Linked DNA regions of Homo sapiens: regions 2, 3, 4, 5, 6 and 7 are each reported to be linked to region 1. The links are microRNA targets in miRTarBase. Many come from high-throughput screens and were not tested one by one. Region 1 holds a microRNA gene; each other region holds the end of a gene's coding sequence.
What was found. The annotated mature microRNA hsa-miR-6819-5p reads UUGGGGUGGAGGGCCAAGGAGC and lies in region 1 at 1,174-1,195, opposite strand. An mRNA with a match to its seed (bases 2 to 7 or 8) in the 3' UTR can be bound and repressed. Matches are read on the target gene's strand: a 7mer-m8 pairs with bases 2 to 8, a 7mer-A1 pairs with bases 2 to 7 and ends in A, and an 8mer does both.

Region 1 (4,436 bases):
GCTCCTCCTCCAGCTCCTCCTCCAGCTGGGCGATGCGGGCCTCCAGACGCCGCTTCTCCTCTAACGCCAGGGCTCTGCGGGGTGGGCGGGAGAAGTGAGGGGCCTACCCTGGGGACACACCTGGTCCCCCCCAACTCTGCCCCCTCACTCAGCTCACCCTTTGCCGCTGCTGTTGGCGATCTCGTCAGCCAGCTCATCCCGCTCCTGCTGGGCCTGGCGCTTGGCACGCTCCGCGGCTGCCAGTTCCTGCCACAAAGACCCAGAGTGTGACCTAAAGGCAGCCACAGCCCCACAAGACCATCCTTCCCAGCCCCAGGCACCCTCCCCTCAAGCCCTTCCCCAGGCCCACCTCCCCACGAAGCCCTTCCTCCAGAAACCCTCTAGCTCACAGGGCTGGTGCCCCCCTGAAGATATAGCTTAAACACCATATGTTTATAAAACTCTTACATTTAAGTGCTAGGAATCAAGCCAGGTGCCAGGGTATGGCGATAAGTAAGAAGTGTCCTGGCCTAACCAGGGAGACCACGTGGACAGAGTCACTCAGGGCGGCCCCTCCCTGTTCTGGGTAAGCCAGAGCTTGGAGTCAGCTCTGGAGGCCACAGGCAGATGGCTACACCCTGGACGCACTCGCAGCCGGCACATCACGCTGCAGGGCACCCTCCAGACCTGGGAAACACTTCAGGACGGGCTCAGGTGCGACGGGCAGGGCGGCCGAGGGGACGCTCAGACCCCTTCTCACCAGGCAGCATTCACAGCAGGAGGTGGTGGTGGCCACAAAGCCTCATCTCATGTGAGGGATGCCAGTTTCACACACACACACACTCTGATCATACGAGGGAGCCCCGCTATGAAACGGAACCCTGGAGGGAATCCTTATGTAACCTGAGAGCCATCCCCAGCCAATTCCTGGAGCCCAGTAGGACTCCAGCCCTGTCCTCAGCTGAAAGCCCCACGCTGCCACCTGCTGGCCGCAGGGCAGCGGTGCCGCTCTCCATTGCAGCCCCACCCACCTCCTGCAACTGGATCATCTCGGCCTCCATGCTCTTCAGCTTCTTCTCGTTCTCTTTGGCCTGGGCCAGGATCTCCTCACGAGAGGCGCGGGTGTCATCCAGCTCGCGCATGCAGTCCTTCATCTGGGCCTGGGGTGGGGACAGAGGCTTGGCACCCCACCCAGCTCCTTGGCCCTCCACCCCAACCCTCATGGGTCACCTCGCCAACAGGGCTCATGGCTGGTGCTCCACTCAATGCTGTATTTAACCAACTAACCGTGGTGACAGGGCAAAAAGGCAACTAAAGACAATCATCTGTGTATCCCACCCCGTAATGCACACTTTGACAGTGTTCGTCACCGTGGACGTGAGCCCAAGCTGAGCTTCATTTTCTACTTTCTGTCCCCTCCTGTGGGCCGGAAGCCAGTGCCCATGGTGCCACCCCTAATGCGCACCTGCCACTCAAAACCAGTGCCCAGCCTGCCGGTCCATCCCCACCACAGGCAGGAAACACCTTTCCTTTTGTTATTCTCCTGTTACTTCTTTTAACACTAAAGACCTTTGTCAAATAGCCTTTTTTTCCTTTTGCAGATAAATCCGAAATTGAGATTCCCCAAATCAAAGAGAGTGACTGGCTGTGTGCAGCCCGACCACACCAGTAAAAAAATGCCACCAGCAATCAGAGCATCTATGCCCACAACCTTGACCACAATGAAGTTTTAAAGTTTTTGTGGGTTTTTTTTTTACACTTAACATTTTTTTTTTGGCCGGGCGCAGTGGCTCATGCTTGTAATCCCAGCACTTTGGGAGGCCGAGGCGGGTGGATCACAAGGTCAGGAGATTGAGACCATCCTGGCTAACATGGTGAAACCCCGTCTCTACTAAAAATACAAAAATTAGCCGGGCGTGGCGGCGTGCGCCTGTAGTCCCAGCTGCTGGGGAGGCTGAGGCAGGAGAATGGCGTGAACCCGGGAGGCGGAGCTTGCAGCAAGCCGAGATCATGCCACTGCACTCCAGCCTGAGCGACAGAGCGAGACTCCGTCTCAAACAAACAAACAAAAAAAAATTTGTTAAACTAAGGTTATTCTTGTTACATGATATGGCGTATCAGAGCTGTTTTTACGTGTTAATTATTCTTTAATTATTAGTGAGGTGAAGATTTCCAAGTATGTGTCCCACACTCCGGGCTGCTTCTTGGAACCATCGCCCCAGAGCCCAGAAGGCTGAAGGGTGTCAGGACCCGGGTGATTCTGGAAGTCTGCATTAAGTGAGACCTTCTTGAACTCCACCCATGTCTAGGCTTGTACTTGTTTGCTTCTGTGTTTTATGTACCCAGTCATACACCGTTTTGCAAGTTTGCTGTTGGACTATCATGTTTCCACTCACCTCTGAGCCTCTGAGTCTCTGTCAGTGAGATGGGGCTGGAAGCACCCAGGACCTTCCCAGGAGGTGCCACCCTGCCAGGTTCCCGCCCTGGGCCGAGCCCTGGCACCTTCATATGTAGTTGGCTCAGTCGGGTGCCGCCCACCCTCACCTGGGCCCCGCCCACCCTTACCTGCAGCTTCCGCAGCTGTTTGATGGCTTCGTCCCGGTTCTTGTTGGCCGAGTCGATGTGCGCCTCCAGGTCCTTCAGGTCCATCTCCAGCTTCTTCCGGGCGGCCACTGCCATCGAGCGCTGCTTCCTCTCGTCCTCCAGCTCTGCCTCCATCTCCCGCACCTGGGGGAAGGAACATCAACAACTTGGGAAGCTGGACCCACTGGGAGACCCTGCCCTAGCTCTGAACTCAGGAGCCTCAGGCCAGTTCTGCAGGATCCATGGGGCCTCGGGAAACCAGTGGGGATTACTGACCATAAGAACTCTAAGAAAGTGAGTCACTGAACCCCGAGACAGGAGGCTAGAAAGAAGGAATATGGGAGGGGAGGCGTGGTCAAGGGGCCCTAACACAATCCAGGTGGAAGGAGAGAACAGAAGCCTGCGTGAAGCCAAGGCAGCCTTGGGCACCCATGGGGTAGCAGGAGGCCATGCACACCTGTCTGACCAGCTGCTTCTTCTTCTCCTCGCTCTGCTCGTCCCGGCCCTGCAGGTCCCGCTCGAACTGGGCCTTCATGGCCTGCAGGTTGACCTCCAACCGCAGCTTGGCATCTTCGGTGGCCTGCAGCTCGTCCTCCAGCTCTTCCAGCTGCGTCTTCATCTCCTCCACCTGCTGCTCTAGGGCCCGCTTGGACTTCTCCAGCTCGTGGACCTGAGCCCCAGAGAGCCCAAGTCAGGAGCAAAGGGACTGGCAGGTACCTGGGTCTGCGCGACCCGGAGTCTGTGCACACACCGACCCTCTGTGATGACCCCACTCGGGCCCTTCCCAAGACCTGGCTGCCAGGCCCAGGACTCACACTCTTGCCCACATCATCCTTGGAGCTCATAAGGTCCTCCATCTCCGTGCGGAACTGCTTGTTGAGCCGCTCCAGCTCCGCCTTCTGCTCCATGGCTTCCTCCAGGGCCCGGGCCAGCGACAGAGCCTTGGTCTCCTTCTCTCGGGCCTCCGCCTCAGCCCGGTCGCGCTCCTCTGCATACTTGGCAGAGATGGTCTTCTCCTCCGCCAGGAGCTGGGAAAGAGGTGGGCACCATGAGGCTCAGAGCTACGGCCCCCAGCAGGGCAGGGCAGCTGGGCCTAAGCTCCCTGGGGAAGGAGGAGCCCAGAGGCCACGGTGGAGAGGAGCAGGCCTAGGAAGCACAGGCCCAGGGCTGTGCCCAGGACAATACACACAGTCCCGTGCATCCTCATGATGGGATGACTGCCGACTGGAGCAGGCACTACTGCGAACACCATGTTGTAACGTCTGTTTAATTTTCATCACTTACTAATCGCAACCCTTTATGGCACGCTGCCCCTTCCATGAGAGCCCTCCAAACCTGTAAGAGCTTTGGTTCTCCTGAACCACAGCTGGCATTTGGTTGGCACTTTTCACGAAGTGAATGCCAAGCTGGCTGCCAAGAAGCCTGAACCCCATTTGTGGTCTTCTCTAATGACAGCTGCTGTCCCCTGGCATCTGTTCTCTGTGTGCACCCACCTGGCTCTATCCTATTTCCCCACCTTCCCTTCCTTTTGGCCCAAACCTTAATTATCCCATGGGTTGCTGACCATTTCCTAAAGGGCCAGATAGTGCATTCTTTAGAGTATGCAGGCCCTACAGTCTCTGCAGCAATGGCTCAACCCCACTACCACAGCACAAAGCAACCAGAGACAACATGAGAACCATGGAGCGTGGCTGTGTTCAGTCTATCGTTCCCTACAAAATGCAGGGGCCGGATCCGGCTACCACAGTTGGCTGCCCGATGTCTTCTACTGTTCTATCCTGCCCCCGAGTCCACATCCCCCTCAGCTGCTCTCAGATCTTTTGGAATAAGGAAGTGATATGAATGCATAAATAAATCGTTTAAAAGACAGTCAA
Region 2 (4,436 bases), not on the chromosome of region 1:
TGGAGTGCAATGGTGCAATCTCGGCTCACTGTAACTTCTGCCTCCCAGGTTCAAGTGATTCTTCTGCCTCAGCCTCCCAAGTAGCTGGGGTTACAGGTGTGTGCCACCACACCTGGCTAATTTTCCTATTTTTAGTAGAGACGGGAATTCACCATGTTGGCCAGGCTGGTCTCAAACTCCTGACCTCAGGTGATCCACCGGCCTCAGCCTCCCAAAGTGCTGAGATTACAGATGTGAGTCACCACGCCCAGCTACTCAGTTTTGTTGTTGTTGTTGTGTTTTTTTTGTTTGTTTGTTTTTTGTTTTTTGTTTTTACAGCTGAGGGAGCAGAGGTTCAGAGAGAAGAAGTTACTTTCCCAAGCTCACGCAGGTAGTAAATGGCTCACCAAGAGTGGACCTGGGCAGCCTATGGGTCTGGGTGCTCTGTCCTGCCTCTCCGTTTCACAGATAGGATGAGAGAGTGGGAAGGTGCTGAGATTTCAGTTCCAGATGGGATGTGGGGTCTGTAGCCCTGTTAAGTCCCCGCTCCCATGGCCACAGATGCCTATGGGAGGCAGGAGGCAGGTCTGAAAGTGAAGATGTATGAATTCAGCTCAGTTTTGGGAACTGAGGATTGTTCATTACTGGGTATGTACTCCAAGGAAAAATAAACTATTCTACCCCCAACACACCTGCACCTGTACGTTTATTGCAGCACTATTCACAGTAACAAAGACATGGAATCAACCTAGGTGCCCATCAATGGTGGATTGGGTAAAGAAAATGTGGTACATGTACACCATGGAATACTATGCAGCCATAAATAAAACAATGAAATCGTCCTTTGCAGCAACGTGGATGCAACTAGAGGCCATTATCCTAAATGAATTAACACAAAGACAGAGAACCAAATACCGCATGTTCTTGCTTATAAGTGAGTGCTAAACATTGAGTGTACATGGACGCAAATATGGGAACAGCTGACACTGGGGACCCCAAAATCAGAGAAGGAGGGAGGGGGTCAAGGGTCGGAAAAATACCTATTGGGGCCGGGTGTGGTGGCTCATGCCTGTAATCTCAGCATTTTGGGACGCCAAGGCAGGCAGATCACTTGAGGTCAGGCATTCCAGACCAGCCTGGCTAACATGGCAAAACTCCGTCTCTACTAAAAATATAAAAATTAACCAGGCAAGGTGGTGCACGCCTGTAATCCCAGCTACTCGGGAGGCTGAGGCAGGAGAACCACTTGAACCCGGGAGGCAGAGGTTGCAGTGAGCTGAGATTGTGCCACTGCGCTCCAGCCTGGGTGACCGCGAGTCTCGGTCTCAAAAAAAAAAAAAAAAAAAGAAGAAAAGAAAAAAAGAGAAAAACTACCTATTGGGTACTATGCTCACTACCTGTGTGACAGATTTATTCATACTCTAAGCCTCAGCACCACACAATATACCTTTGAAACAAACCTGCACATGTACCCCTTGAGTCTAAAATTAAAAAAAAAAAGGTCAGGTTCGTGGTAATTTTTTATTTGTAACTTTTCTAATTTTTAATTTCCAATTTTGCTTAATTCGAAAAAATACATACCACTTTAGAGCAAATAGGACACAACGTTAACAACTGATAACTCCAGGTGAAGGTTATATGGGGTTCACTGTTATATATACATATATATGTGTAATTTTTTTTTTTTTTTAAGACAGACTCTCTCTGTCACCCAGGCTGGAATGCAGTGGTACGATCTCCGCTCACTGCAACCTCCGCCTCCCAGGTTCAAGCCATTCTCCTGCCTCAGCCTCCTAAGTAAGTGGGATTACAGGCATGCGCCACCATTCCCGGCTAGTTTTTGTATTTTTAATAGAGTCAGGGTTTTACCATGTTGGCCAGGCTGGTCTTGAACTCCTGACCTCAGGTGATCCGCCTGCCTCGGCCTCCCAAAGTGCTGGGATTACAGGCGTGAGCCACCACGCCCAGGTAGGGTTCACTTTTTTAACTTTATTGTTTTAACTTCCCTGTAGATTTGCAAATTTTCAAAATTAAAAAAAAAAAAAAAGGCCGGGCATAGTGGCTCATGCCTGGAATCCCAGCATTTTGGGAGACAGAAGTGGTTGGATCGTTTGAGCCTAGGAATTCAAGACCAGCCTGGACAATACAGCGAAACCCCGTCTCTACGAAAAAATTAAAAATTAGCCGGGCGTGGTGGCCGGCATCTGTGGTCTCAGTTACTTGGGAGGCTGAGGCTGGAGGAATTCTTGAGCCCAGGAGCTCAAGGTTGCAGTGAGCAGTGATCACACCACTGTGCTTTGGCCTTTGCGAAAGAGTGAGACTTTGTTTCAAAAAAAGGAAAAGAAAAGAAACAGAATTTTGATGGCAAATATGGAAATGATCAAGTGTAACGGAATATTTTTGTCACAGGAGAGGCCAGAAGGGGACCGCTGAGAAACGGCATGGTGCCTGCAGGTGCTCAGAGTGTCCAGTAGGGGGAAGCAGAGTCCAGGTTCTGTCTCAGGTTAGGCTTTGAAGCGGGTGGCGGGTGGGACAGACTTTCAAGAATACAATGAATCCTGAGCGGCATGGCTGGAATAACAATAATTATTAAAAAGCGTCCTAGGAATATTAAGAAGGACAGCGATGAAAGAGGCTTTAGAAATAACCTAGTCCTTATTCGGCAGAAGGCAAGACTGAGTCCAAATAGATTTTTCCCAGATTTAACCCAAGGAATTCACGAGAAAGCTTGAAATAGAACCCAGGTCTCTATCTCTTTAGATGTATGGAAAGAAATAAAAGCCCGTTTTCAGAAGGAGAGCTTGCAAAATTTGGTTTTCTTTGGTAGGAAGTGAGTCTCTCTCTCTCTCTCTCTCTCTCTCTCTCTCTCTCTCTCTCTCCCCCCCCCCCCTCTGTGTGTATGTGTATATGTGTGTGTGTGTCTGTCTGTCTGTCTGCCTTGCCTCTTGGACACCAGCAAATGGTGTCAGTGGAGTTCAAGGAATGGTCCTCTTTCCACTGCAAATCTCTCTCTTGTTGTCTTGAACCCCAAAAGCATCCGATTTTATGTTCTGGAGGAGAGAGAGAGAGTCTGGGAGGTTAGAAACAGGAGCTATGGGAAACAGGAGGAAAGATCTGGGAACCATGAAAATTGTAATAAAATTGCTTTATTATTTTTAGTTACTACAAATATATATTATAATATTTACTAAGGAAAAAATCAGAACTCATAACAATAAGAACTTAAAAAATACCCACAATCTTATATACCAAAAGGTAAATGCTCTATATTTAAATACAGGTGTTTTTCATGAAGATGGTATGCAATAATTCTTATGAGAGCATTTTGTGATATGTAAAGTGCATGCAGTCCAGTGTCCAAGGGGTCATGGTTGTAAACAGCGGGTCGAGGGCGCTGTCCATGGTACTGAACCCGGGCAGATGAGGGGAGGAACATCTCTGAGCTTGTTTGGAAGTGCTAGCAGGGAAGTCCAGATAGATACTTGTATGCCTTTGACTGAAGCGTGGTCCTCCTCTATCAGAGAAGGTCGTCCTCTCGTCCTCTTCAACTGAGCATGCAGCTTTAGGAGGGACACATATGGGGCAGTGAGGGAGGACGGGGACACCCGCCTGCTCAGCCAGATCAACCAAATCAATCCTGGCGATCAATGGGGTGAAAGATGTTGCAGTCAGAGTACCCTCAAATCTGGAGCGTCTTTGAAAAATGAGCAGGAAAGCCTAGCCTGATATCATGACAAGCCCATTGGAGCGTCCACGGGTTTCTATTTGAGAATCTCCCAGCACTGCTGTCTCTCCTCTTTCTCCTTGGTAAGTACAGGGCTTGTTTCCTGTACTTACAATGGGAACATTGAGTTCCCATGGAAGGCTCTCAATGGGAAAATGCTCCACCAAGCTTAGCCGGACTGGGATCTCCTCACTCCCAGACTTCTCAGCTCCATGCCTTAAAATGATGTCGTCATTACCTGAGGCCTCTGAATTCGGATCTGAAAAGAGAGATAAAACCAAGTGAGGGCTCAGCCCATGAGGAATTTGGGATTCTGGAAGCATAAGGAGGATTGGGATAGGAAGTGTTCTGTTTAATTATTTTTATTTTTTATTATTTTTTTGAGACAGGGTCTTACTCTGCCATCCAGGCTGGAGTGCAGTGGCACAATCACGGCTCACCATGGCCTGTAACTTCTGGCCTCAAGCAATCCTCCCACCTCAGCCTCCCAAGTAGCTAGGACTACATGTGCACACAACCACACCTGAATAATTTTTAAATTTTTTGTAGAGATGAGGTTTCACTATGTTGCCCAGGGTGATCTCAAACTCCTGGGCTCAAGCAATCCATCCACTTCGACCTCCCCAAGTGCCGGGATTACAGGTGTGAGCCACTGTACCTGGCTATGATTATTATTTCTTTTATAGCAACAGAGTCTCACTTTGTTGCCCAGGCTGGTCCTAAACTCCTGACT
Region 3 (4,436 bases), not on the chromosome of region 1:
CACAAACTGATCTGGAATAAAATAGTAGTTACCACTAGTGGAATAGTACTTACTGGGCCCGGAAACCTTATTGGTTCATAAATATCCCAATGCTCTTTTAACAGCGAGCATCATTACTCCTAGGTCAGAATCACTGTTTATATATAAAAAGTCTCTTACATGAAGAAATATTTTCAAAAATAAAGTTAATAATTGATAACTCTTTAGAGTTTAGTTTTTCTATCTACATGTACTTTTCTGTATTATATATACTGCAATAATATTCCAAAAACAACTTTCAGTGAATGTCCCCAAAGTTCTTGCTATCACTTGCCCAAACTGTGATTTTTTAATTTTTATTTATTTATTTATTTTTGGTTTTAAGTCAAGTTCTCCTTCATGGCTTTGAGAAAGGAAATAATTTACTTGTTGCTTCACGTATGTAATTAAAATTATGCTTTTCCTTAAAATGGACATATTGTCCTAAGCCTCATATATTCACGAAGAATGTAGGGTGGGGGCAGAAATGGAGACACGAAACAACATTTAGTTTAAGAGAGAAATGTGCAGGTCAGCAGGCCCAAACCCCCACAGGCAAGCAAACGGACAAAACCAAGAGTAACATGAAAGGTTTTTAAGCATGAATTGAGGAACAGAAGCAGCAGAGGAGATGATTGGAGCAGCATTTGTTTCCCCCCCCAATCTAGAAATTTTATTTCCTGTGTACACTAGCCAGTGGTTGTAAACAACCATTTAATTGGTGTAAAGAACTTAATTTCAATATAAAGTGACTCTGGGCAGCATTGGTGATGCCGTTTCCGAGTTGTAGCCACTGTAATTGTGAATATTAACTGAGATAGTGAAACATGGTGTCCGGTTTTCTATTGCATTTTTTCAAGTGGAAAAGTTAACTAAATGGTTGACTCACACAAAGTGGTGGAGAAATTGTGCATATGTCATTTTTTTGCTAAAACCTTTTGTTTCAAACTATACTGCTTTAAGATCTCATTTCAGAAGGGCATAGTCTTCAGCCACAGTTGTGATGGTTGTAAATGCTCATAATTGGGCATTCTTAGGGTTTTTTCCATCCCTGGGGTTTGCATGTTGTTCACTTAAAGCATTCCTAAAATGGTTGGCTTCTGGTTTGCAAGCCAGCTGATAATGGTAGCAACCAAAGACTCCAGGGTGTAAGCATATGAAAGACTCTGCTTGCTTGTGCTAGAAATAACAGCATCTAAAGTGAAGACTTAAGAAAAAACTTAGTGGCTACTAGACTATCCTTAGGACTCTGCATTAACTCTATAATGTTATTGCTTTTTTTAAGCATATTTGTCAGAGTAGTCAATATGTTAAAACTGAACATGTATGAAAGTTGCTTAGATAAATGTAATCACTGTAAACATCAAAAAAGAGAGAAACTTGTAAAGCATTTCAGCAGTGCCTAAAGAAAATTTTAAGCCTCAAACACTTTATATATAATCTCATTTAATTCTCACTGCAACTCCATGAAGCAGTGTAGTTATTTTTATGCCTGATTACTAATGTGGCAACAGGCATGAAGTTAAATGCACACAATTAGTAGCAAGAGGATTTGCACAGTTTCTGGCTCCAAAGTCTTTGAAAGTCTTTGTGTTTCTACCATGCAGCTTTTTTCTTTTTTTCAGTTTCCTTTATTTTTTGCTTGCACTTTGATATTTTAAAGGGGACACGAGACAAGAGGCTGTATGCCTTACTTTTGGTGCTGCCTAGCTTATCTTTATACAAATTAAAGATTAACTTTCTCTGGCAACTGGCAAGCACCCATCTTGACACTTCCACATTTTTTTTCACTGCTGCTAAAAGCTGATAGACTTGAACTGCCCCTGCCCGCCAGCACCACAAAACATTTTGCTTGTTTTTTAAGACCGCTAACTTATATGTATTTTAAATTCAAGCCCTACGAGCTTAGAGAATGCCTCATGACTTCAACAAGTTGATCTGACATTTATACCCCAAAACAAATAATGAAATAAAGAATATGCAGAGCACATTCTTTTACCTTTCCCACCATCCCAGCAGAGCATCATAATGGCACCTAAGCATTCCCAAGGGCTCCACAGCAGCCTTGATCAGAACTGCTGTCCACAATTGCAGACTGGCTCACTGAAAAACTGGAAGCATTACTGGACGCCGCTCAACAAAGCTTAGCCCTTTTTGGAACTAGTGAAAGAAGTCATCGATCATGTTGTAATGCATTTAAATGTCTACTCAGATAAACATAAAAACCTGTAAGGTGTGTGCACTAGGATTAGCTGGTCTTCCCTTCTAATTTTCACTTCTCAGTAACCAAGTGAAATTTCAGCCTTGTTTTTATGCCTCAAAACACTTTAGCTTGTGCTTGAGCTTCTTAAAAAATTCAAAATGTTAATTACGCACTCCAATAAGTTAGCCAAATTGGTTGAAAGATACAATATATGTACCTTCCCAAATATTTTAAATATTTCTGAACTTTTTGTTGAGATGTATGGTCTTATCTTGGTACTGAATTAGAAATAAAGTTTGGAAGTAAATTTTGTCAGTACCTAGTTCCCAAACAAAGCTAAATACTTGCACAGATGAATATCCACCACCATGAAATACCAGAGAGAACACAAAATTTACTTTTGCTAGTAAATCAATTAAATTGATTTTTATTTAATGACGAAACCATTCATTGGCAGATTAATGAGGACCAGACGCTTGTCCAATTTAGTTGACACATTTGCTTTTTTATTTTTTAGAATATAGTCTACATCTGGATTAAAAAAAGTTTTAAATAAATTTAAGACATACAACAACAGTGGAACCCTTCATCATTCTATGTACAACACGATAGAATGTCAGTTGGTTCCATTTCGGTTAAGTCCACTTTCTCATAATAATGTTATTATTTTCACTGAGTGGCAAGCTACGTACAAGCTGGCGAAATGCCAGCTTATACACACTGGGGTGGGGGTGGGGACGGGAGTGGCACGAAAGGGATGGGGTGGGGGTGCCATAGGACTACTATACAGTGTAACAGAAAATCATTAATAAAGTAGTACCGATTACCGACAGACAGTGCTGTTTGTGCGCTTATCACAATGGAATCGCTGAAGTTTCAGAGCAAGGAGGAGATTCGAAATACTTCACACAGGGCCAATGTTACAAAAAGAAATAGTGCAAACAGGAAAACTGATGCAATCCTAGCAACGCCTGGGCCTCCACCGGCCCAACCGCAGGGCGGCGGGAGGCTACGCGCCCCGCCTTCCCCAGCACCCAGCTCCGGGCTGCTTTCCCAAGTGTGGCAACCCAGCGCCGCGCCCTGGTATGGCCCCTTCTCGGGCCCTCTCCTCCGAAAAGAACAGAAAAGAAACCCCAGGAAAGGCACAGGCTGAATGCAGGGCGTCAGCCCAGTCCCATTCCCACCAACATAGAATGCAGGCCCCCTCCCAGGAGGTTCCTTGGGCCCTCCCATCTCCGGCCACCATTTTCTTCTCTCTCACACGTGGCCCCCTCCTCCACGCAGCCCCACCGCGCCTCCTGCACGTACGCAGCCCCCCAGTTTGCAGTCTGCCCTTCCCGCCCCCCAGCCAGGAAAAAAAAAAAAAGCTTTGAGGAATGAGAGAGGGTGAGATGGGTCGAAGAAGGTGCTGGGCAGCCACGGGCGCCACGCCTCAGTGGCCCCAATTGCCGAAGCCGATCTCCTGCTTGTATCTGTTAGTGAGGATGTTGGCTTTGCGCGTGAGTTTCGAGAGCACAGTGTGCAGCCCGCGCAGGTGGTAGTGGAACTGCTGTTCCAGGTCTTCTTCGCCGGCGTCCGCACCCTCCAAGTGGCCCAGGTCCACCAGGATGTCCTTGGACTTCCAGGCACTGCCCTCCTCGCTCCCAGCCGGTGGAGGCGGCTGGTGCAGGACCCCCCACTCGATGTCGTTGCGGATGGACTTGAGAAGCACGTAGTGGCTGTACATGTCCCGAGAGGGCGCGAAAAAGCTGCCATTGGCGCTTCCCGAGTCGGGGACTGGGGGCGTGCGCTCCTCCAGGCAGCCGCCACTGCCGCCTACCTCCACGCCAACATCGTTGTCTAACCCGGGGTCAGCCAGGGGCACGTCGCGCAGCAAGCTGGGCACCATCACCGTCTGGTCCATGTTGTTCACGGCGCCAATGAAGCGATTCATGGCGTTAAAGAGCGAGTGCTTCTGGTTGTAGGTGTCGCAGATTTGCATCATGGTGGCCGCGCGGACGTTGGAGCGCAGGGACGCAGGGGCACGGGGATGGTCGGCCGGGTCAAGGGGATGCCCGCCTTCACGCGCTCTCCAAGGCCCGCGCTGGGGGCCTGGCTATAGCCGGTGTGGCGGGATTCCCGGCACTCCTCCGCCCTCGCCAACTCTCGTCTCGCTGGCAGACCGGCCCTGCGGGATGGGCGGCTTCTCCTGGCTTTGGCGCCCGGAAACTCGCGA
Region 4 (4,436 bases), not on the chromosome of region 1:
TCCAAGTCACACGGCTGCTGCTGGCACACGGGGCCGACCCCAGCGAGTGCCCAGCCCACGAGTCCCTCACCCACATCTGCCTGAAGAGCTTTAAACTGCACTTCCCTCTCCTGCGCTTCCTCCTGGAGTCCGGAGCCGCCTACAACTGCTCCCTGCACGGTGCGTCCTGCTGGTCTGGCTTTCACATCATCTTTGAGAGGCTCTGTTCCCACCCAGGCTGCACGGAAGACGAGAGCCATGCGGACCTCCTGCGCAAAGCTGAGACTGTCCTGGATCTCATGGTGACCAACTCTCAGAAACTCCAGCTGCCCGAAAACTTCGATATCCACCCTGTGGGCAGCCTGGCGGAAAAGATCCAGGCCCTCCACTTCTCCTTGAGGCAGCTGGAGAGCTATCCCCCGCCCCTCAAGCACCTGTGCCGTGTGGCCATCCGGCTCTACCTTCAGCCGTGGCCTGTGGATGTGAAGGTCAAAGCCCTGCCTCTGCCCGACAGGCTGAAGTGGTACCTCCTTAGCGAGCACAGTGGCTCCGTGGAAGATGACATCTGATAGGTCTCAGGCTACAGGAACGGGGGACACGGGCAGCTCAGGTCAGCCTGTTGGTAGATGCTGGGACAGCATTAGAAGAGGGTCTTTTTGATCTGGGAGATGAGACGGGATCCTTCATGAGAAAAGCCAGCCAGGTAGAGCCTGAAGCTGTGATCACTCCAGTGGTGAAGGGTGCAGCTCTGGTTCTTCCAGAGAGACTGCCCCCTTCCCTCCAGCGGCACTCCAAGTCCCCCCCATGTTGGAAAGAGGAACAGGGCTTGGATTGATGTTTATACCCTCTGAATTGGAGGGCAGTGCCAGGGCATTTGCAGAAGCTGGGAAGGACCAAGCCTCAGCACCCCAGGGCTGCGGGGCTCTTGTTGGCCGCACGTGGCAGTGCAGCTGGAGAGGAAGCCTGGGGCACGTCCTGTGCGGTGCCACCAAGGCCCCACCCCTGCCCCTTTTCCTTCCAGGTTCTGTTACTCACAGAAGTGTTTCTGGTGGGCTCTGCGGGAGAAGACACTAAGGGCCCCACAGGCTTGTTTCATGGTGTTGCAAGCCAAGCTGGCCCCTGCCTGTTCCTGTAGCTCTGGGGCCAGGTCAGCCGTGGCCCCACCTACCAGAACTGTGCTCTGCTGGCAGCTGTGCTTTTGCCAAACCCAGGGCCTCAGCGACCATGACTTCTGCTAAAAAGCAATCATGAGTGCGTGGCTGGGGACAGACCTCTCTGAAGTGTCTCCTGTTGTGAGGGGCTCACTTTGGAGCCACTGAAGAGCCGACTGTGCCACCCACTTGCGAGCCTCAGTCCCTTCCAAGCTGCACTGGTCATTGGGAATTGTGTAAACACCTCTGGGGATAAGCTGAGGTGACTAAATGATATATTTATATTATAAGATTAAACTGACTTTCTTGGCCTTAACAAGGTCCTTATATAAAATTTCCACCCCGCCCCTCCATAGTTCAGGATAGAGGCTCCCACAGCAGCCGGTAAGGAAGTGGGTGGCAGGTGTGAGGGGATGCTGTGTTTGGGGGGTTGTTTCCAAGTCCCTGCAAAGAAGCACCACTCTAGACTGGCAAGGGCCTCCACAGTGTGGAGGTCCCATTTTATTATTTTTTTTTTTCGAGACACTCTGTCACCCAGGCTGGAGTGCAATGGTGCAATCTCGGCTCACTGCGACCTCTGCCTCCCAGGTTCAAGCAGTTCTCCTGCCTCAGCCTCCTGAGTAGCTGGCATTATAGGTGCCCACCACCATGCCTGGCTGATTTTTGTATTTTTAGTAGAGACGGGGTTTCGCCATGTTGGTCAGGCTGGTCTCAAACTCCTGACCTCAGGTGATTCGCCTGCCTCGGCCTTTCAAAGTGCTGGGATTACAGACATGAGCCACTGTGCCCGGCCCCCATTTTATTTTAGTTTTATTTTGAGACAGAGTCTCGCTCTGTCACCTAGGCTGGAGTGCAGTGGCGCAATCTCACCTCACTGCAAGCTCTGCCTCCCGGGCTCACCCCATTCTCCTGCCTCAGCCTCCTGAGTAGCTGGGACTACAGGCGCCCGCCATCACGCCTGGCTAATTTTTTTTTTTTTTGTATTTTAAGTAGAGACGGGGTTTCACCTGTTAGCCAGGATGGTCTCAATCTCCTGACCTCGTGATCTGCCCGCCTCGGCCTCCCAAAGTGCTGGGATTACAGGCGTGAGCCACCGCGCCCAGCCCCATTTTATTTTTTACTTTAAATGCCTGCCAAGGAGCAGCCTCAAGCCCAGAGAAGACTGAGGCTACGGGGAACTTCCCTTGCTGCAGGCTGTTGTAACACTTTAAGGGCCCCAGGTCTCCACTGCCAAGCAGGACTTGGCACATGAGCACCCACCCCACAGCACCATCAGGCAGCACCCATGGGCTCCACCAGCCCAGCTCTGTCCCTCCCCTAGGTAAAGATCACACTGAAGTCTTCAAGTCCCCAGCAACCAAGTTGGGGGTGGTTTCCTTCCTCTTCAGGCAGCCAGGCCCATGGCTGGAAGGCCGGGCTGGAGGCCCAGGGAATCGGTTACTGATGTGGCCACCCTATTCCCACATGGGGAGCACCAGGAGCCCTGGAGCCCCTTCCACCCAATCCCATCTCGCAGGAGAGCAGGGTCTGGGCTCCTGCCTCACCGCTGGTTCAGCAGCACCCTCCCCGCCGGGTCCCACCTTGCCTTTTGAAGAAGAGCCCGCATAATGAGTGGACGGCAGACAGCTATATTTAGTGGTGCCTCGACACTCACGAACCGCCAGCGTGGCGCCTGGATCTTGCCCAGCTGCCAGCTCCCCCCACCAGGACTGTGGTTCCTCAGTTTCTCCTGCCAGCCCCGGCTCATCTCAGGGCAAAGCTATAGACATGGTAGATCTCATCGGGGAGGTTCTCCTGCCTCTCCTCGGCCAGGAGGCTGAGGCCTGCACTGCAGATGATCCTGCGGACCACGTCAAGGTCCCGGCACACGCTGCTGTCCACGTCGTCCAGAATCACGCCCTCCTGGGCCATGTTGTCTTTGATGACGATGATGCCGTTGGGGCGGAGGCTGCCCTTGCAGCGCCGCAGGAACTCGGCCAGGTGCTGATCGGTGAGGTGGCCTGGGGAGGGCAGAGGCAAGGTTACCAGGGCACCATGCAAGCGGATGTCGGCACTGGATGGGATGTACTTCTCAGCCCCGCTGAGCCCCTCATTTGTGCCCAGCATTTTGTGTGCACACATGGCCTCATTGGCTCTCAGTCCCGAGAGATTTACTAAACCCCAATTCATAGAATAGGAAACTGTGGCTCAGAGGTCATCTACCTAAAGACACATTAAGCCAGAATTTGACTTGACGGGATGGCTTACAAGTCCTGCCTGATACCTACACACCATGATGCCCCACCCCTGCCAGGCTTGGATCGGAGGAGTGAACCTGGGCTAAGAGTTTGGCATTGCAGGAGCTCCCAGAGAGACTGCCTTCCCTACACTAGAAGTCCCCACAAAGGCTTCTGAGACCACAAAATACAAGGCCAGACCTAGAGTGTCCACAGCAGGCCTGTGCTGCCCGCCTCAGGAGGTGGCCGACTGCTGCTAGCGGCCTGCCGCCACGTCAGCAGCCCAGGGCACAGCGCTCGAGGTGTGCTGTTAGGCTAAGAGGGTGCAGGGCTAGACACGAAGCTTAAACTATTCATCTTATTAAAAATAAAACCCTTATAAAACTCCTCACTTTGAATGCAGTAAGTTATTGGCCATTAAAATTTTTTCAACAAAAAACTGCACCCAAATGGATGGTAGCAGGTATTCAACTGAAACAAAACCTAGAAGGAAGAAATCTACCTTTTAGGCCGAGCCTGTCCCTCAGTCCTGGGAAGTACGGGGTGGGGGTGGGCCTGGGCGGGGTGGGGAATCCTCACTGGCCCACTTGCTGCAGGAGTGCAAAGCCCTGGTCCTGACACCTTATGGGGAACGCGAGTGGCAGGAGACATACAGGTGAGCAGGGAAGGGCGGTGGAACCCTCACCTATCACCCACTGGATCCAGATCACGTCGTAAGAGTCCGGCTCCGGGGTGAAGTCCTGGAGCCCACAACAGAAGTAGTTCCTCACCCTCTTGCCCTCCTCCCCCAGGTAGGTCTTGGCTTGAACCAGGAAGTCCTCCGTTATGTCGACCATATCCACCTCTCTGAACAGCGGCAGGAGCAGCCGCTTGGTGATCCTCCCAATGCCAGCTCCACAGTCCAGGGCACAGGACGTTCCTGTCTTGTTCGGGCCTTCCTGAAAAGCAGAGGCATATAACCTATCAGAGGGACCCTGTCACCGCACGTGCGGCCCTTCCTCACGAGCCCTAGGACTTAGACTCAAGTCAGGATTCCAGGACTCCGCACAAGCTGAGCACTGGTGGGGAGGTCTGTGCTGGCTGCCAGCTT
Region 5 (4,436 bases), not on the chromosome of region 1:
TTCTGTCTCTAAGCTGTGGCCACCTTATTCAGTTCACACACCTCTAAGCTCACTACAGAGGGAGAACTGGGGCTGCAGGGACTTAGGGGCTGCAAGCCATTTGTGGTGAGAAAGGTGACCTCTTTCTCCTTTGCAGGACCTGAAGGAGAAGAAGGAGAAGGTGGAGGAGAAGGCAAGCCGGAAAGAGCGAAAGAAAGAAGTGGTGGAGGTGTGGAGGGGTGGGGGAGAGGACCACATCTGCCCTACCATCTTCCCTCCCAATCATCTCATCCTTCCTCTGCTTTCCTTCCGAGGGTGCTGGGTCCTGCCGTTCCCCTGAGCCCTGTCACCCTTGCTGCCCCACCCTGTGGCCCATCCCAAGCCCTTTTATCACCCAGGCTCCAGTCCCATTGGTGGTGATGGTGGGCAAGGCATGCAGCCAGCCTGAGGCTACTCCCTCTCCTGGTCCCCACAGGAGGAGGAGAACGGGGCTGAGGAGGAAGAAGAAGAAACTGCCGAGGATGGAGAGGAGGAAGATGAAGGGGAAGAAGAAGGTGGGGAGGGGCAGGGGAGGCTGGGCTGGCAAAGTCTGGGCTCAAAGGAGAGCAGAGTCAGGGTGGGTTTGAAGACCTGAAGCAGGGCTGAGGGCGACCACGGGGGCTCTGCCAGAGCTTCCTGCCCTTCCCCAATGACCCATTTCTGGCTCCTCAGATGAGGAAGAAGAAGAAGAGGATGATGAAGGGCCCGCGCTGAAGAGAGCTGCCGAAGAGGAGGTTTGGGCTGGGTTGCTGGGCCTGAGGGGCTGTCAGGGATGCAGCCGGGCTGGGCGCCCTTTGGATTTGGACCCAGATCCCTGTGTGGCAGGGGTGGGGGCTGGAACAGGACCGGGACAGGGGGAGGTCTCCCCTCCCATTTTACAGCTCCCCCATTCTCTCCCTCTCCACAGGATGAAGCGGATCCCAAACGGCAGAAGACAGAAAATGGGGCATCGGCGTGAGCCCCTGCCAACAGGCTGGGGTTGGGAGGCCTCTCTGGGCCTGGAGGTGGGGGTGGGGGCAGCCAAGTCCAGCCACTCTTCACCTGGCTCCCTGCTCTGGGCCCTGCACCAGAGCTGCCACCCTCTTCTTTCTCCCCAGCCTTCTCATTTCCGCCTCTCCAGACACTGCGCCCTCCACCCTCACTCTGCCATTGTTCCACCTCCTGACCTGCTCCATCTGAGCTCTCCAGCTGGCCCCCAATTGCTCCTCTCTCTCTTTGCTCTCTTTCTCCCTCCCCTACCAGCCTCATTCTTCCTCCGGTAGCCTCTCCCACCTAACCTCTGCATCCCCCAGCCTCATGTCCTGCCCCATCCCTATCCTGCCTGATCCCTGGATCTCCCTCAGATCCCCTCTTCTCAGACAGCGCCAGGCCGGGGTGGGGCCGGGGTTGGGGCCGAGCCCCACAGCTGCCCCCCTCCCCTCCCTTTTTGTATAATTTAATAAAGAAATGGTCGCGCTTCTGTTTTTAACCTGTCTCCTGCTTTCCCGGGGGCTCCAGTCAGTGCGACAAAAGGGTAGAGAGGGAGGAGGGTGGCTGACCTCCCATTCTGCCAGGACCCTTCCCTTTGATACAAAAGCAGCAGCACACTCCTACCACCCACGACTCAAGAAGACAAGATCAGCCCTCCAGGGGTGGCCTGGAGCCCAGCTCTTCTGAGAGCTGACTTATGTCCTGTTTTGGATTCTCAGGGATGCTCCTCCCCAGCAATACACACTTCCCTGCTAACCCACACAAGACCTAGACACTGCTGAGCCCAGTGGAAAGCTACCAGCTCTATTGTGCTGAACCAGGCACAGAGAAACAGCCCAGAAACAGGAAGTCCTTCCCCTGAGCTGGGAGAGGGCTGGTAGTCCTGGGTCTCAGCCTGCTAGGATCTGGAGTGAGCTGCCTGGCATCAGAGATGCCCTCTGCCTGGCATGGAAGCGAGCTCCTTCCAGTCAAGCAGGGAAATCCTGGGTCTCGTGTCATCCCCAGGTCGGCTGTATGTTTCGTCACCTGCCCTCCAACTCTCCCTGGGCTGGGCTGGGGAGCGGGAGTTGTATGACTCTTGTCAGTCTTGGGCCTTCCCTAGTCCCACTGCCTCTGTTTCCCCTGAGTTTGATCTCTGTTAGGAGATTTCTAAGATTTCTGCATTTCTCCATCTCCGCATGGCCCTTGCCTTCTCCTCTTAGTTCGGAACCTCTGGACTGGAGGATGCTTCTGAGGGCATGGGGACCTGAGTTGGAGTGGGGAGGGGTGTTGACTCATCAACAGCATCATTTCTCCCAGGAGACGCCCGTAACTCATCCAAGGTCAGGACTACACACTGTCACGCACACAGGTACACTCACAGCTTTTATCTTCACGCTCCCTAACCTTGGCAAATTGTACAATTTCTTTGAAGCTCAGTTTCCTCATCTGTACAATGGGGAAAAGCATTAGATTTCATGAATTACTATAAGTAAAGTGTCCAATACAGTGCTTAGCACGTAATGAAGCCTCAATACAATGTAGTTATTCTCCATGCCCCACAAAGCTGGCATGCCTAGCCTCAGACCTACCATTTTTTGGGGTGCAGTAAGGCTTCCTGTCCACCATGTTCCCAGGGACATTGTACTGATGGGTGGAAAGGCAGGTCTAAAGGGGTCACGAAGTTCTGGGAGGTTAAGGGAACGAGGAAGGAGATTGAGCAACAAGGAAAGAGCTTGCCAAGAAGGAGGTGTGAATATTGGGACTGAGGAGGCAGCTTAGAGATGGGCAAGGGGGCAGTTCCAGGCAGAAATGGTTCGTGGAGGCAGAAGGTCCCTGGGAGAGGGAGCAGTCTGGAGGGTGGGGCAGGGGCGAGGAGGGGGAGGTGGGGAGACCCAGGACTGAGGAAGTAAACAAGGGGAGCGCCACCACAGAGGTGGAGAGGTGGAGGGTGCTGCTGCTGGGAATCAACCCCCTCAGACTTTCCACTGCGAAGCGAAACCGTAAGCCCTGGGGTGCGGGGGGCGGGCCGGGAGGAGGGGAAGTGGGGAAGGTGGAGGGAAGGCCGGGCACAGGGGTGAAGGCCCAGAGACCAGCAGAACGGCATCCCAGCCACGACGGCCACTTTGCTCTGTCTGCTCTCCGCCACGGCCCTGCTCTGTTCCCTGGGACACCCCCGCCCCCACCTCCTCAGGCTGCCTGATCTGCCCAGCTTTCCAGCTTTCCTCTGGATTCCGGCCTCTGGTCATCCCTCCCCACCCTCTCTCCAAGGCCCTCTCCTGGTCTCCCTTCTTCTAGAACCCCTTCCTCCACCTCCCTCTCTGCAGAACTTCTCCTTTACCCCCCACCCCCCACCACTGCCCCCTTTCCTTTTCTGACCTCCTTTTGGAGGGCTCAGCGCTGCCCAGACCATAGGAGAGATGTGGGAGGCTCAGTTCCTGGGCTTGCTGTTTCTGCAGCCGCTTTGGGTGGCTCCAGGTAAAACGGGGATGGCGGGAGGGTTGACCTCCAGCCCCACAGGAGGGGACCAGCAGGGATCTCTGTGGCCACAAAGGTCCTGAGGTCCTTAGCTCTGTGGATTCTTCTAATCCCTTTTTTGGGCAGTCCTTCCACCCCGAAAGCCTCTCTGGGCAGAGAAGAAACAGAAACCCAAGTTCTTCCTGCACCCTGTTTCTCCCTCGGGAAACACCCAGGCTCCTTCTCTACCCCTGCCTCTCGGCTCACGCCCCCTCCCCTTGGCCTCTCTTTTGCTCACCTAGTGAAGCCTCTCCAGCCAGGGGCTGAGGTCCCGGTGGTGTGGGCCCAGGAGGGGGCTCCTGCCCAGCTCCCCTGCAGCCCCACAATCCCCCTCCAGGATCTCAGCCTTCTGCGAAGAGCAGGGGTCACTTGGCAGCATCAGCCAGACAGGTATGCACCCCAAACTTGGGCAACAGGACCTCCGAATCCAGCACTCAACCCCACACCCGTGCCGGTCCTCTGTCCCCTGCCCTGAGGTGTCACTCCCTCTGAAGCCAGTGACCCAGTCTCCCTGCCCTCGCTTGCACCGTTCCTGCCCTTGCTCTGCAATCAGCGACCCTCACGCCAGCATCCCTTCTCTCCAGAAGTGGATGCGGCCAGTCCAACAGAGGGGTCGGGCGTGAGGGGACGGTTGGTGGTCAAGAGAACTCTTGGGGCGGGCTTTCTCATCCTCAACGGGTGGCTGCCTGCATCCTCCCGGGCTTCCTACCCCTGGAGCTTCTCAACTCCATTCTCTTTCCCGCCCAGTGGCCCGCCCGCTGCCGCCCCCGGCCATCCCCTGGCCCCCGGCCCTCACCCGGCGGCGCCCTCCTCCTGGGGGCCCAGGCCCCGCCGCTACACGGTGCTGAGCGTGGGTCCCGGAGGCCTGCGCAGCGGGAGGCTGCCCCTGCAGCCCCGCGTCCAGCTGGATGAGCGCGGCCGGCAGCGCGGGGACTTCTCGCTATGGCTGCGCC
Region 6 (4,436 bases), not on the chromosome of region 1:
AATAAACACTGAGCCTTCTAATCTCAGCCAGCTGTCTTACAAATGTAAAAATTAGATTAAAAGTGTAAAATTGTCATCAAAAGGTTTTAGGTAAGCATGCCTAACCCTTGTTGATTACTGGTAGTTGTAAAGAGAATGTAACAGATGTTTGGAGCTATCTGTGGAGAATGCTTAAAACTTGATGAAACCTTAATTTTAATTTTTTTTCTGATACTCTCTTATATCTCAGGCATGTCCAGATCAGCAATGAGTCGGCAATTGACTTCTACAGGAAGTTTGGCTTTGAGATTATTGAGACAAAGAAGAACTACTATAAGAGGATAGAGCCCGCAGATGCTCATGTGCTGCAGAAAAACCTCAAAGTTCCTTCTGGTCAGAATGCAGATGTGCAAAAGACAGACAACTGAACAAATTACAAATGAACTTTCTTGCACTTGCTTGTCGCCAAATAAAAGAGAGGCCCATTGATTCCTCCCCCACCCCAACACTTTTCTTTTAAAGCTTTTCTCCCTCCTTGTTCTTGTTTTTCTTTCTTCCTTTCCTTTTCTCTGAGAGTTTTAATACTTTCAAGGACTTTAAAAAAATAATCATGTTTGAATTGTTTTCTCTTATTTTTGTGAGGTGGTTTGAAGGAAGGACAAGGTAGATCTGTTTAGTTTTGCAGTTGAAGTTAGATGGTCCTAAACATTTAATTGTCAAATAATTTCAAATTTAATGTCCTGCTTTCACATTGAAGGGCAGAGCCTACAAAACATTGTATATTTCAAAAGACAAAAAGAAGCAGCAGCAGTATCTTGTTCTCTAATTCATAGACAAGTTGAGTGTGTTTGTGGTACTTTGGGTTTTTAAACACTTTGGGATACTAATCCCTAGACATTGCCTTCACTCCACCTTTAGTCCTTCTGAGCACTCTCTCGGGAGTTGGAACATTGTTATCCTTGTAAGAAATACTAAGCTTATGTTGATTTTTAAGTAATTATATCTTCTCTTCTTGCTGGTGGGTGGGGCAGTTTGGTTTAGTGTTATACTTTGGTCTAAGTATTTGAGTTAAACTGCTTTTTTGCTAATGAGTGGGCTGGTTGTTAGCAGGTTTGTTTTTCCTGCTGTTGATTGTTACTAGTGGCATTAACTTTTAGAATTTGGGCTGGTGAGATTAATTTTTTTTAATATCCCAGCTAGAGATATGGCCTTTAACTGACCTAAAGAGGTGTGTTGTGATTTAATTTTTTCCCGTTCCTTTTTCTTCAGTAAACCCAACAATAGTCTAACCTTAAAAATTGAGTTGATGTCCTTATAGGTCACTACCCCTAAATAAACCTGAAGCAGGTGTTTTCTCTTGGACATACTAAAAAATACCTAAAAGGAAGCTTAGATGGGCTGTGACACAAAAAATTCAATTACTGTCATCTAATGCCAGCTGTTAAAAGTGTGGCCACTGAGCATTTGATTTTATAGGAAAAAATAGTATTTTTGAGAATAACATAGCTGTGCTATTGCACATCTGTTGGAGGACATCCCAGATTTGCTTATACTCAGTGCCTGTGATATTGAGTTTAAGGATTTGAGGCAGGGGTAATTATTAAACATATTGCTTCTATTCTTGGAAAAATAGAAGTGTAAAATGTTAATAATACAAATGTCACTGTGACCTCCTCCACTGAGAGGACTGGTTTATGCCAGATCATTTTCCGGCACACACGGAGTGGCTTTGACAGATTGATAACTTTGTAAGATGGGAGACATCTGAAATATTCATGTTTTCCTTTTGTAGTCCCATCTCCACTATTTAGAAATGTTCTCAGACTTTAAAATAATGCACAGGGCTTGAGCTTTCTGTCATTTGACTTTAAAAGGAAGTTTCATTCATATTTATCCTCTTATGTAAAATTGCGGTATAAAGTCTCATTTCCAAATATGTTAAATGACAAAATTATTTTATAAAATGTTTATGCACACTTTATAACCTTAAGTTTTTATTTGAGAATGTGAAAGTACAAAGTGCAGTAGACTTCAACAATCTTGAGTGCCAAGAATAATACAGAAAAAGAAGACAGTTGATGAATGAGTTTATAGGGTTCTAATCTTAAGATGGTAAAAATGTAGAAAGACCTTGCTGGTTTTTTGGGGGTATTCGTTTCTTAAACAATCCAAATCTAAGCTTAGAAGAAAAGTTTAGCGTTAAGCACCTTTATCTTCATGAATAAGCTTCAGCTTGCTCTTGGCAAGAGAAGAGTGCTTGAGTTACAGAAGGCATAAGTAGTTTGAAGAATGCAGCAGCCTTTTTGTAAACTTCCCAGATATCAAAATAGACTTTGATATATAAATGGTTTTCTGAGATGACACTGCCTCTATTTCTATAACCATTTCACCTGGACTATCTAATCAGTCCTATGAATGTATCCCTAAATGTGGTTATTGAAAACCTAATAGCTGCCTCATGACAAGTACATGTTATTTAAGGAGGAAAAAATATTAAATTTTGAATTGAGTGTGTAGGCTCCCTATCATTATATATAGAGTTTCTTTTTCCACGGTAGTCAGTGACTTAACCTGAATTGTAAATGTTTGTAAAGGGTTAATTGTCCTACATCAAACTTAGTTAAATAATTCCATCCACTTATGGAGGAGGAGGAGAATGTGGAAGAGGTAAAAAGCTGGGCACAAGTTCATATGCCTATGAGTCAGTAAAGACTGAAGTAATGTCCTATGTTGAGCTGGTTATTTTGATATATGATAATAATTATCTTTGAAGTAGAACAATTCTGTTAACTGGAAAATCACAGGATATATCCATCATATTTTTCAGGACAGATAGTTTTTACTGTGGGGCAAATAGGTTAAAATTACACTATGTTAGTTGCATTTAGGTTTTAAAGCAAAGAATCTGTAGAGAAATCTATGCAATATATAGTTTGTCCAGATTAGCTTTCATTTGGGGAATGAAGTTCTGAAATATCTAAAGCAGTTTACTCATCAATTGAAAAGTCCTCCAAAAAGAGAACTATTGGGAAACCATGGTGTGGTGGTGGAAAAGAAAAGCTCCCTCAGTTTTTTGGAGGGAATAACTTAAAAAAATACTTAAATGGCTAAGTTTACTTGGTGCAGTTAAGAATTAAACTTGTCAATTTTAACATTGCTGTTACATCTGAAATAAACTTATGTGATGTTCTGGTAGTGATCTGTGATATCTGTAAATGTCAAAACTGTATTGTTGAATTCTGCAGCCAGCAACCGTACATACTCATTGTGTAGTGTTTCCCTTACTGCTTTTATTTACTTTCACATTTAAGATCTAATTTTAAAATCATTAAAATAGGCCAAGTGTAATTAAGGCATCCTAATTCAGATCTTCTGTGACTTGCTAGGTACAGTGCCCAATATCTACAATTCAGTTCCAATGAGAGGGAAAAAGTAAGATCCAAGGAACTGTCTTGCTGCTGTATTTTTAATGTAATTATTAGAAATACTTGACACTTTAGGCTGCAATCTAGTTAGTAATGTTTATTGGCTACAGACAACATATTCAGGTGTTTTGTTTTTCTTCCTTGTAAGGAAGGAGTACGGTAGTTCAATGAGTTGGGAATTGGCTTTTAAGCTTTTTATCAAACATGAATTTAAGATTTTTTCTTTAACAGAATTCAGTATTTAATATTTCTAGTCAAAATTGTTATAATTAGATTTTTGCTTTTTTCATTTAAGAAGCAATGAGTGATCCTTGTCTAGTGTGTCTCAGTTATTACTGTAGTTTAAAACAACAAACAAGTATTACCTTCCACAGTTCTGGATCAGGAATCTAGGAGCTGCTTAACTGGGTGGTTCTGTCTTGAGATCTCAGAAGGTTGCAGTCAAGCTGTTAGCCAGGACTGTACCATCTTGAAGCTTGACAAGGCTAGAGGAGCCATTTCCAAGATGTCTTGCTTACGTGGCTCTTGGGCTTCTGTTCCTCACTGTGTGGGTATCACACACAGTGCCTGATGCTCACGTGGCTCTTGGGCTTCAGTTCCTTGGGCACCAGTTGCCTGGTGGACAACTGGTATGTGGCTTCCCCTAGAGCAGGTGATATAAGAAAGTGAGCAGAAACCATACTTTTTTATGACGTAGCCTCAGGTGACATTATTTCTGCCATATTCCATGAGTCACACAGACCAACCATTGAATCAGCTTGGTATAGTGTGGGAGGGGACTGCACAAGGATGTGAATACTGGGAGGTGGATATCATTGGGCCCTCTAGGAGACTGGCTATCACTGCTCAGAGAAGATGCTGGGCTTCGTTGACTCCCAAGGTCAGGGTAGTTTTGGTTAGGTTGTGTTTTATTAGTCTCTAAAAGGAGTAGTTTTCTAAATGAGGGTTATAAAGCACTGCACTTTACAGTTATTCGGGATATAAAAGAAATAGTGGGTCTAAAGGCTGTGCTCTTGTGGTTGGGTTTTCAGT
Region 7 (4,436 bases), not on the chromosome of region 1:
GGTGAGCAAGATGGTGAACAATTCATGGTGCTGCCTGTCTAGCAGGTTTAGACATGAATTTAATTCTTAAGCAATAATTAATTACAGTTGTAGTAGATGCTCTGAAGAAGCACAGGGACTAAGGGAGACTTGTCTGTGGGGTCAGTGCAGGCAACCCATGGAAGTGATGTTGGAAGTGATTTTATTCCCCTTGGGGTCATCTTAGTGCTGTTTGTGCTTTTTTCTTTGCTTTTTTTTGAGATGGAGTTGGAGCCTCCCTCTGTCTCCCAGGCTGGAGTGCAGTGGTACAATCTCAGCTCACTGCAACCTCCCCCTCCTGGGTTCAAGTGATTCTCCTGCCTCAGCCTCCCGAGTAGCTGCGATTACGGGAGCGTGCCACCAGGTCCGGCTAATTTTTGTATTTTTAGTAGAGACGGGGTTTCACCATGTTGGCTGGGCTGGTGTTGAACTCCTGACCTCAGATGATCCGCTCGCTTCAGCCTCCCAAAGTGTTGGGATTACAGGCGTGAGCCACCATGCCCGGCTGCTGCTTGGGCTTCTACAATGAAATCTGAACTCTCTCTGAAAGCATCACTTCTGCTCATTCACCAGATGCTAAGTGCTTCCATCTAGAATGCTTCTCCCTTCACCTCCATCCCTTGTCTCCACTTCAGTGCAGCCCTGCTTCTCCTGGAGGTGTACATGCAGTGGATAGTGGCTCATGCCTGTAATCCCCGCACTTTGGGAGGCTGAGGTGGGCGGATCACCTGAGGTCAGGAGTTCGAGACCAGCCCAGCCAACATGGTAAGACCTTATCTCTACTAAAAATACAAAAATTAGCCGGGCGTGGTGGCAAGCGCCTGTAATCCCAGCTACTCAGGAGGCTGAGGCAGGAGAATTGCTTGGACCCAGGAGGCAGAGGTTGCAGTGAGCTGAAATCGCACCACTGCGCTTCAGCCTGGGTGACAGAGTGAGACTGTCTCAAAAAATAAAGAAACTACTGTACATGGAAAGCATTTTAAACAGTCTAGGACATGGTAGGCAGTCAATAAATGTTAATTAGCAAGGATTTTACATGCACTCTTTCATTTAATCACTACCACCGCAAGAATACTACCCCTATTTTACAGATAAATTCAGTAACTTACCCAAGGTCATATAGCTGGTAAGTTGCTGAATAGGAAGGCAGACTTGGCTTTCTCTGATTCCAAATCCTGTTATTAACCCTATACTAAGCCTTCCAAGGAAGTGCTTAATAGTAGTTATTAATACCTTATTTCATCATTCAAATTCTCCACCTTTTGAGGCCCTGACCATCTTAGCATAGGACCTAAATCCTTAATTTGGCCTGGCTGAATCAAAGGTAAAATGGATTTGGGATAAAGATCAAGAGACAGAGATCTCATGGCTCTCCAGAGATCTTCCCACAACACAAAGGGATATTATTATTATTATGAAATTTTTAAAGATTGGAGTCAAACTCTGTCCCCTAGGCTGTAGTGCAGTGGCACGATCCTAGCTCACTGCAGCCTCAACCTGCTAGGCTCCAGTGATCCTCCCATCTCAGCCCCTATTTGTAAATTTTTTGTAGAGATGGGGTCTCACTATGTTGCCCAGGCTAGTGTTGAACAGCCTGTTGAACAGCTAGTGTTGAACAGAGGTATCTTTTTTTTTTTTTTTTTTTTTTTTTTGAGACAGAGTCTTGCTCTCTGGCCTAGGCTGGAGTGCAGTGGTACAATCTTGGCTCACTGCAACCTCTGACTCCTGGGTTCAAGCAATTCTCCTTGCTTCAGCCTCCTGAATAGCTGGGATTACAGGCATGTGCCACCATGCCCAACTAATGTTTGTATTTTTAGTAGAGATGGGGTTTCCCCATCATGGCCAGGCTGGTCTCAAACTCCTGGCCTCAAGTGATCCACCCACCTCAGCTCCCAAAGTGCTGGGATTACAGGTATGAGCCATCACGCCTGGCCTGATGTATCTTCTTTGGTCACTTTTTCCTCCTCCTTTCACTCTAGTCATAACATGGCACGGAAGTACATGCAGTTTAGACATTTGTTGCACTCAATGAACAAATCTTTGTTGTTTATTTTAAAATTCAAGACAATTTTTTTGCAAATGCTGATTCAAAACGTACCAATCCCCATCTATCATGCCTATGCCAATACAATCTGTCACAAAAAAGTTTGCTTCTCATTGTCACATAGCTATGGGGACTGGTGGCCTTCTAAAATCACTGTCCAGCTGCTGCAAGTGTGAGGCCAGCAACCCACGGCAGGGATGCAGGAGGGAAGCCATGGCTAAGCTGTGGGCCTGGACAAAGGCCACAGATGGGGTTGAAAGGTGAGAAGCGGTAAGCTAGAGGAGACAGACGGCGTTGCCATTAAAAACAATTCAACTTCATTTTAATGTTGCTATGTAAGTTCACAATAAAATCCCTGGAAGTTCAAATTGGAAAGAGCAGTTTGGGGTCATGGGCTCAACAATATAAAGGCAGATTCAGTGAGGGGTAAGGGTAGTGGCTCTGGGGGCAGACTGACCTAGATTTGAATGCCAGTTGTACCAGACTCAAGACACCTTGGGTAAGTGGTTTTATGAAGTACCTCAGTTCTTCATCAGTAGAAAGAGTGCTAACACCTCCATAAGACTTTTGTATGGATTGAGTAAGATAATGCATGTTAAACCACTTGTATAGTTTCTGGCTAACTGTAAACAAGATGTTCTAGAAGTTCTAGTTATCTTTTTTTTTTTTTTTTTTTTTTTTTTTTTAAGAGTCAGGTTCTCACTGTGCCACCAAGGTTGTAGTGCCGTGGTGTAATCATGGCTCATTGCAGCCTTGAACTTCTGGGCTCAAGTGATCCTCCCACCTCAACCTCCTGAGTAGCTGGGAATACAGGCATGCACCACCATGCCTAATTTTTTAGAGATGGGGTCTTGCTATATTGCCCAGTCTGGCCTCAAGTAATCCTCCTGCCTCAGCTTTCTGAATTGCTGGGATTATCGGCATGAGCCACTGTGCCCAGCTAAGCTGTGACTTTTGAGGCAACCCCTTCCCTTCCACAGAGTTTAGTTTCCTCATTTGTAAAATGAGGACAAACCTAGATATTTTTGGAAGTTTCTTCCAGTTCTAATTGCCTATGATCAGATCACATCTGTTGCAGAGCTTCCTAAAAAGCCTGGAAAAATGCAACTCTGCCCCCTGGTGGTTTGCAGCTCTCTATTCAAGATGCTATAAATCCCTCATTGGCTTCAAGACCTCCCTACCATTTTGGTTGCTGTACACTGAAGCCTCACTGGATTGCATGGTGGCTTCCCCAAATTCCGTATGCCTTAGGATATGATGCTTGGCACACAGTTTTCCTTTAGTGCTCCTTTTAATAATTTTATTAGTATGGCCACAAGTTTGATGTCTACAGTACATGTTAACATAGCTGAGTACAAATATTTGAAATAAGTGTGGCAAGTTTTAAAATGTCAACTCTGAGTTATCATGCATGTCCCATGCATTTACATCTGCATCTGCAAACTGTACAATTCAATCTGTGCTTATCCTCACTGGGTCTCCCTGTGTGCCTCAGCTAGGGCAGGGCAGGGGCTCTTGTGCGTTTTTTCAGACCCAGATTTTCAAGAGCAACAGTGTTGAACTCTGGCATGCCATGGTGCATGGTGGCAACACCGGGTTTAGCTTTGGTTCAGGTAAAAATGCAGTGACCAACTATTGCATTTGTGTGAGTCACCTGATTCCCCAGGGCCTGGGCTAGCACAAAGGGTATTTTGATATCCCTGTATGAGGCCCCTGGCAGTTTCTGAACCCGTTTCGTCCCACCGTGAAAGTCTAGAAGTGAGGTTCGCAGTCTTCTACCATGCTGTCAGTGATATAGCTGGAACCAAGATGGGATTCGTAGTAACTCTTTTCATCAAAGGTATTAACAGTCCAACCAACAACCTGGATTCCTTTAGCTGACCACTTCTTCAAGTAGGCCCTGGGGAAAGAGGAAAGCCAATCCTGTTAGAATAATAAGCAGCTGTCTCAGGAATCCATAATGGCCACTAAGTATGGTGTTCACTGCATACCAATGGTGCCCAGAGAATGCCTCCTAACTGGCCTCTGCACTGTGATCAGAGGGACTGTTCCAAAACCCAGGATGCCATGAACCTCCTCTACACTGTCCCAGCTTAAAACATTTCAGTAGCTCACTAATGATCGCCACCCCCAAATGTCCTTGGCACAGCCACTGAAGGTGTGCCTGACCTGGCCCCGACCTGTCTCCTTGGCTTCATCTCACACCACATTCCCCCTTTCTTTTCTGTGCTGATTAATTTTAAATTAATTGAAAGAATATTAATTTTCTTTCACTTCCTGGAAAGAACCATGTTCCTTCCTGCCAGAGCACATTACATGTATTTTTCTCTCTGATCTGGATTCCTCCCAATTCCCACTCACCCTTCAGATCTTA

Region 2: the mRNA of MUC17 is a reported target of hsa-miR-6819-5p. Seed matches in the 3' UTR shown: 7mer-m8 at 3,628-3,634.
Region 3: miRTarBase lists MID1IP1 as a target of hsa-miR-6819-5p. Seed matches in the 3' UTR shown: 7mer-m8 at 2,980-2,986 and 7mer-m8 at 2,943-2,949.
Region 4: miRTarBase lists ASB6 as a target of hsa-miR-6819-5p. Seed matches in the 3' UTR shown: 7mer-m8 at 884-890, 7mer-m8 at 2,028-2,034, 7mer-m8 at 2,388-2,394 and 7mer-A1 at 3,288-3,294.
Region 5: the mRNA of PTMS is a reported target of hsa-miR-6819-5p. The part of its 3' UTR that is shown has no 7-base or 8-base seed match.
Region 6: miRTarBase lists NAA50 as a target of hsa-miR-6819-5p. Seed matches in the 3' UTR shown: 8mer at 478-485.
Region 7: miRTarBase lists GDE1 as a target of hsa-miR-6819-5p. Seed matches in the 3' UTR shown: 7mer-A1 at 2,445-2,451.

The regions. Positions count from the first base shown.
Region 1 is chr22:36,285,708-36,290,143 of GRCh38, forward strand. It overlaps MIR6819 (microRNA 6819), which reads right to left and starts at 1,200; the gene lies at 1,140-1,200. MYH9 (myosin heavy chain 9) reads right to left here. Exons shown (of 41, transcript NM_002473.6): 32 at 3,378-3,590; 33 at 3,020-3,232; 34 at 2,545-2,706; 35 at 1,011-1,139; 36 at 158-246; 37 at 1-74. RefSeq lists an enhancer at 689-1,201.
Region 2 is chr7:101,057,529-101,061,964 of GRCh38, reverse strand. It overlaps MUC17 (mucin 17, cell surface associated), which reads right to left. Exons shown (of 13, transcript NM_001040105.2): 13 at 3,106-3,962. The coding sequence ends at 3,921. It also overlaps the pseudogene RN7SKP54. Among named protein-coding and RNA genes, the nearest start is that of TRIM56, 26 kb to the left of the region's middle.
Region 3 is chrX:38,804,716-38,809,151 of GRCh38, reverse strand. It overlaps MID1IP1 (MID1 interacting protein 1), which reads right to left. Exons shown (of 3, transcript NM_021242.6): 3 at 2,620-4,436. The coding sequence starts at 4,205. The coding sequence ends at 3,654. Among named protein-coding and RNA genes, the nearest start is that of MID1IP1-AS1, 3.1 kb to the right of the region's middle.
Region 4 is chr9:129,633,902-129,638,337 of GRCh38, reverse strand. It overlaps ASB6 (ankyrin repeat and SOCS box containing 6), which reads left to right. Exons shown (of 6, transcript NM_017873.4): 6 at 1-3,733. The coding sequence ends at 548. NTMT1 (N-terminal Xaa-Pro-Lys N-methyltransferase 1) reads right to left here. Exons shown (of 4, transcript NM_014064.4): 3 at 4,032-4,284; 4 at 2,203-3,130. The coding sequence ends at 2,874. Among named protein-coding and RNA genes, the nearest start is that of ASB6, 6.0 kb to the left of the region's middle.
Region 5 is chr12:6,769,467-6,773,902 of GRCh38, forward strand. PTMS (parathymosin) reads left to right here. Exons shown (of 5, transcript NM_002824.6): 2 at 137-208; 3 at 455-533; 4 at 691-752; 5 at 926-1,486. The coding sequence ends at 976. LAG3 (lymphocyte activating 3) reads left to right here and starts at 3,054. Exons shown (of 8, transcript NM_002286.6): 1 at 3,054-3,444; 2 at 3,726-3,873; 3 at 4,231-4,436. The coding sequence starts at 3,387. RefSeq lists a silencer at 4,314-4,436.
Region 6 is chr3:113,717,731-113,722,166 of GRCh38, reverse strand. It overlaps NAA50 (N-alpha-acetyltransferase 50, NatE catalytic subunit), which reads left to right. Exons shown (of 5, transcript NM_025146.4): 5 at 230-4,436. The coding sequence ends at 407. Among named protein-coding and RNA genes, the nearest start is that of USF3, 23 kb to the right of the region's middle.
Region 7 is chr16:19,499,656-19,504,091 of GRCh38, forward strand. It overlaps GDE1 (glycerophosphodiester phosphodiesterase 1), which reads right to left. Exons shown (of 6, transcript NM_016641.4): 6 at 2,038-3,962. The coding sequence ends at 3,815. Among named protein-coding and RNA genes, the nearest start is that of TMC5-AS1, 14 kb to the left of the region's middle.